Regions from separate parts of the Homo sapiens genome. Here region 1 is linked to region 2. The links come from fine-mapping of genetic effects on gene expression. Tissue or cell type: whole blood. Region 2 holds a variant in brackets; the other region holds the start of a gene. All regions are shown on one strand. Distances are between the middles of the regions.

Region 1 (2,913 bases), 83 kb after region 2:
CGTCCGGCCCCTATTTACATTCTTAACCTTAAAAAAAAATTAAAGTTGCCTTGCGCTTTCATTTGGTCTGGGTGCCAGATAGTCAAGTGTTAAATATAGAGAGAGGCCTCCTGAGAGAAGAGCAGACACTTCTCTGAAGGGCTTATGGTGGGAGCTCACTTCCCTGACAGCATTCTCATGCTTCTGGGCTGGATCAGTCAAAACTATCAGCTTTTTGTTTACATCCAAGCAACACTACTCCAACTAGCGTAGTCATTGGAACAAATGTTCATAGTCCTGAGGGTACAGAAGGACGACACTGAAAAGATCCCAAGGGGAAATAAAATCTTTCTATTTGAGCAAAAAGGTAAAAGCACTATGTAGTCATCTTTTTTGGCACATCAAAAAAGTCATCGTGGCACATCAAGACAGACCTCACGAAAGCAATTAATATTCCTATATTATTAGGATAACTTTGCATAATTAAAATTACATAAGTGTACAACAGCTGAAAACACAGCATTAAATACAACTTTTAAAGTCTAATTTTTACCATGTGATAACCGTATCAAATTTTGCGAATATTTTGTGAGACTTGGCAGTAGATGGCGCTCACCTTTACTAAAAGTCTGAGCAGCGCCTTAACACTAACAGGAACTTAAGAATCCAGCTCTGATGTCAGGCAATCCCGTGTCCAGGTCAGGTCACTTTTTTAAGTCTCAGTTTCCTCACTGGTAATGTGGGGGTGGGGGCCTCCCCAATGACCTCGCAACTCAGACCGCTTTTGATTCTCTGACTACAGTGGTGGAGTTGAGACAGGTCGGCTGCTGCAACCGCCGTCTGAAATAGCAATCCGGAAAAGTCAGGTTGGGAAAGTGACAGAGTAGACGCCCTGCGGCTCTGATCCGGGCGGCGCCTCAGCTGCCCACACTATGTGGGCGGCAACGCACAAACTCCTTAACCACGTGGTGCCTCCATTCCCCTAGGGAGTCCCATCACAGGATAACTTCTAGCAAAATCAATCTTCAAGAAAAAAAGAAGGGGTCCTGCCGAAGATATAAGGAAGCTCCCTGGGGATCCCGCAGCACAGCACAAACTTAGTTCTTGAGAGCCGCACAAAACCAACTTCCGCCCCAGTGGAGTTGCGTCCGGAAGGCGCGGCCCCGGAGGTCACGTGGGCCCGCGGAATTACAGCCTGGCGGGGCGCTCAGGTGGAAGCAGTAGGCCACATTATGTCGACTGTTCCATGCAAGTCAGGGTGGGGGCCGTCCCTATCGCAGGCATGAGACAAGTCCAGCTGCGTCGTGTCTGGTAATCTGAGGGCAAGAAGAACGATTTGCAGAAGCTCCCAGTTTTCTTGGCTGTGGCACAGTCGCTTTGAGGGCCAGGTTCCTTCGGCTTCCTCCCGACTCCCCTGCTTCCCCCCGTAGGATTCCCGTTGGTATCGTCCGAGCCCCACCTCCCTCCTCTTCGCCCCCGCACGCCGAAAACAGGGGCCTCTCACGTGACCCCTGCGCGCTCCCGCGGGGGAGCGTAGTCTCGGAGGCGGCGCCGCAGGGGATTGAGGGGTTGACTGAGCGTTGCGAGCCTTAGCTTTCTCCCGAACGCCAGCGCTGAGGACACGATGTCGCGGCTCTCCCGCTCACTGCTTTGGGCCGCCACCTGCCTGGGCGTGCTCTGCGTGCTGTCCGCGGACAAGAACACGACCCAGCACCCGAACGTGACGACTTTAGCGCCCATCTCCAACGTAACCTCGGCGCCGGTGACGTCCCTCCCGCTGGTCACCACTCCGGCACCAGGTGGGCGCGGGCCCTGTGGGCTTCCCGCCCTCCCCTGCCCAGCCGAGCCGCACTGCCTCCTCGCCGTGCGGGCGGGGCCCGGGTTCGGGCCACGGTCGGGCGGGCGGGCCGCGCTCGGGGTGCGGCGGCGACTCCGGCAACATGGCGGCCAGCCTGGAGTCCACTCGTGGCCGGGCCGGGTGGGGAGCGCGCTGGGGGGAAGCGGACGCGCGGTTCCCAGTGGCTGCGGGGCTGGGGCCCCCCTCGAAGTGTTGCAAGTCGAGGTGCCTTTTAAAAGTGCATCGTAATTCCTAGCCTCACTTGGGGTCGGAAATGGGGACGTGGCTTCCTTCCGCGGGGGCAGCGGTGGGGTTGAGGATGGGGCCGGGCGTCGCGCCTCTGAGGTTGGCGGTGGGGCCGAGCTGCCTCTCCCTGCCACTGGTTGTTCACCCTCCCGGCGCCTCTCTCCGGAGGTAGCCTTCTCCGGAAGTCCGGGAAAGAGAAACTTAAAGACGGTAATGCTCGTTCGTGTCTCAGACTTGAGTCTGAGAAGGTCGCTTGAGATTTAATTACATTGGTTTTGCAGATAGGAATAGAATGTAGCTGACGTTTGAGCACGTAGTTAGTGAAAACTTCACACTTCAAAGTATGCGAAAAGGAAGAAAAGTACCCATGTATGTACCGGGTGTTTTGCGTACGTATCCTAAGGCTAAACTGGAAGGTAGGTAGTGAAACCTAGGAGGTAGATGCAGAGACGGAGATGAGTAAACTCTCCTGACATTGTATGTTTATTCTTTTTTCAATTGTTTTTAAAATTTTCTTAACTATGTCCTGTGCTCAGATAGCGTATGTTTAGTAGGTCGTGGAACGGGGGTTTGTGCCCAGGTCTGTGGGTTTTCTAAAACCCGATCAGGAGCGTGTCTTTTGTTATGTGCAGTCGCATAGGGCTGGTTAAGGCATACATACATTTTAAAGCAGAAATTGCCATATACCGTGACAACACAAAAGAGAGAAGGAAGATAAGTTTGAGGTAATAAGCGGGAGAAACACTAGAGGTTTAAAACCTGCAGTCTCGTATGATTGGTTATTCTAGTTAACATTAGTTAAGGAGTAATGTTTACGTAGTTAACATTGGCTTCTTGACCGAAGAATGCCG
Region 2 (2,843 bases):
TTTAAATTGACATTAATCATAGATACTTATTGGGCCATTAGAGTCTAAAAATTGGCTCTGAAAACTAAGACAAAACAAAAGAGAACTATATGTTTATTGTATAAATATTTACTCTCTTTTCTTATCTGAAATACATACTGTGGAATCATAAAATTTTATCATATATAGCCGTGCCCCATCTGCCACCCTTCCTCAGGCACCACCCACACCCTATTTTCAGATTAAAAACTGCCCATGGAAGCGAGACTTGCTTCAAGTCCTTGAATTAGTAGGTGAACCCATGACTTATGACTTGCAGTCTAGTTAATTTTCCACTACTCTTGATTGCTTCCCCCTAAATAATCAGGAAGTAGTAAGTAGGTATTTCCATTTTAAAAATAAAATGTTTATTTTCTTACAGAGGAGAAAAGCCATACTCCTGTGGCATTTGTGGCAAATCCTTCTCTGACTCCAGTGCCAAAAGGAGACACTGCATTCTACACACTGGCAAGAAGCCTTTCTCCTGCCCTGAGTGTAACTTACAGTTTGCTCGCTTAGACAACTTGAAGGCTCACTTGAAAATTCATAGCAAGGAGAAGCATGCTTCAGATGCCAGCAGCATTTCTGGCAGTAGTAATACAGAAGAGGTCAGGAATATTCTTCAGCTACAGCCATATCAACTCTCTACCTCGGGAGAGCAGGAAATTCAGCTTCTCGTAACCGATTCTGTACATAACATCAATTTCATGCCCGGTCCTAGCCAGGGAATCAGCATTGTGACTGCAGAGAGTTCCCAAAACATGACTGCAGACCAGGCTGCTAATCTTACCCTGCTCACGCAGCAGCCAGAGCAACTGCAGAATTTAATTCTTTCAGCTCAACAGGAGCAAACAGAACACATTCAGAGCCTCAATATGATTGAAAGCCAGATGGGGCCCTCACAAACAGAGCCAGTGCACGTGATCACTCTGTCCAAGGAAACACTGGAACATCTTCATGCCCATCAAGAGCAAACAGAGGAGCTCCATTTAGCTACAAGTACTTCAGATCCAGCTCAGCACCTGCAGCTGACACAGGAGCCTGGTCCGCCACCACCCACTCACCACGTGCCCCAGCCAACGCCACTTGGCCAGGAGCAGAGCTGACCTGTAAACACGTTTGACTGCTTGATTGGGCTCTTCTTATAAGCCAGCTCTGACTGGATTTTGAACGCTTGAAATCAGGCTCTCCACACCATTGACTTGCAGATGCTTCTGTGAGAGCTGTGATGGCTAACTGATGTTTATAATGCCCTCCATCCAGGTAGCAAGATGTGTGTATGTCTTGTCTAAGGTACTGATTTGTATTGAGCATTTCAATATTATTGAATGGTTTTCATTTTAATCTGCAATGTCTCATAAAGACTCGGGTAGTTTTTCTTTGGGGGCATTGATCTCAGTTTTTCTGTAAGGTTTAAATGTTCACAGCCATAGGTTATGGTCTTGCCAACCTCCCCAGTTATGTTTTTTTGTTTTCTAGGACAAAGGGAGTCATTTTGGTTGAACTGGGCAGAATGGTTTGTTCTATTTTCTTATTTTTCTTAGGCAACACAGTTGTTACCACAAGACAAGTCAGGGCTAAATATGACAGATCACAATGTATGGGGAATTTGCCCTTTTAATAATTTCCAGTCCCCTAAGACAAAGTAACCCTCAACGTTTTATCTTTATGCAGTACAGTGGGCTTATTGTGTTAACACTTCAGAAAGATTCAAACTCATAAACTCA[G/A]TATTTTAACTCAAAATTCATGTAACAAGATAGCCAAAAGCATAGGATTTCTTAAAATTCTGAATTCGTCTTTTCTGAGAAACATAAATTTACATATTTTTCAACAGAAGGCTATCAAAATTTTAATTAAGTTTAAAATACAAAATTGGATCAAGACATTCACCCTAAATTCTGAATTTTTGTCAGAAAAGAGATTTGATTTTCATGAAGGTAAAGCTTTCTTCACTATTCTGGAACATAAAACTTTATTCAGTGTAATTTAAGTCTTATATATACTCTACTGAATTCTAACTGATCTCCTGAAAATGTTGATCTACGTGTTGTGTCTGATAACTTTCTGGAGATGGAAGCTTATAATTCATTTTTATTGCAGACTAGTTAAATCCCACAAAGTGAATATCTTCTCCTAATCTTTCCTTTTTTAGAGACAGGGTCTCACTGTATCACCCAGGCCAGAGTGTAGTGGCACAATCATTGCTCACTGTAACCTCGAATTCCTGGGCTCAAGCAACCCTCCCACCTTAGCCTCCCTAGTAGCTGGGACTACAGGGATGTACCACCACACCCAGCTAATCTTCATCTAATCTTAAAACTTTGAGCCTCAGAGACTTTGTAGCCAGCATGTGTCTGTAATTGTATGATTTTTAAATCATCATCAAAAGATTAAATTATGTTTGGGTTAGGTTTTCAAGCTAAGCTTATTGAATTCTTTTACCACTTTCATGTAAGCTGGTAGGGGATTTTTGAGAAAAGAAGGTGGGCACTAGTATATCTAAATTAACAATGCTGATGGGGAGTAGGGGGTAATCTACTCTAAAATTAATAGAGCCTTTCCATCAATTGTTTTGTTTTAGACATCCTTGATTTCTCCCTAAATCAAATAAGTTATTTGGAGGTTAGAGTAATAGAGAATTCTTCAGGTTTGAGAGAAGATAAAAACATTTTGGTTGCATATTTGCTAAGCTATATTTTATTATATGTAATTCACAAAACTTCCAAAATGATATATATCTTATATGTATCAACCAAACTAATGTTAAATCAGGCCTGACTAGAGCAAAGATAACAATTTTTTACAAACACTGTTAAGCCCTAAGT

The links.
Region 1: CD164 starts here. The variant in region 2 is fine-mapped to the expression of CD164 in whole blood (INTERVAL, PIP 0.97).

What each region holds. Positions count from the first base shown.
Region 1 is chr6:109,381,069-109,383,981 of GRCh38, reverse strand. CD164 (CD164 molecule) reads left to right here and starts at 1,515. Exons shown (of 6, transcript NM_006016.6): 1 at 1,515-1,778. The coding sequence starts at 1,604. RefSeq lists enhancers at 898-1,127, 1,208-1,557, 1,113-1,622 and a silencer at 1,778-2,057.
Region 2 is chr6:109,464,132-109,466,974 of GRCh38, reverse strand. It overlaps ZBTB24 (zinc finger and BTB domain containing 24), which reads left to right. Exons shown (of 7, transcript NM_014797.3): 7 at 401-2,843. The coding sequence ends at 1,124. It also overlaps a transcript of MICAL1 not described here. Among named protein-coding and RNA genes, the nearest start is that of MICAL1, 9.8 kb to the right of the region's middle. The variant G/A (reference allele first, on the strand shown) is at 1,746.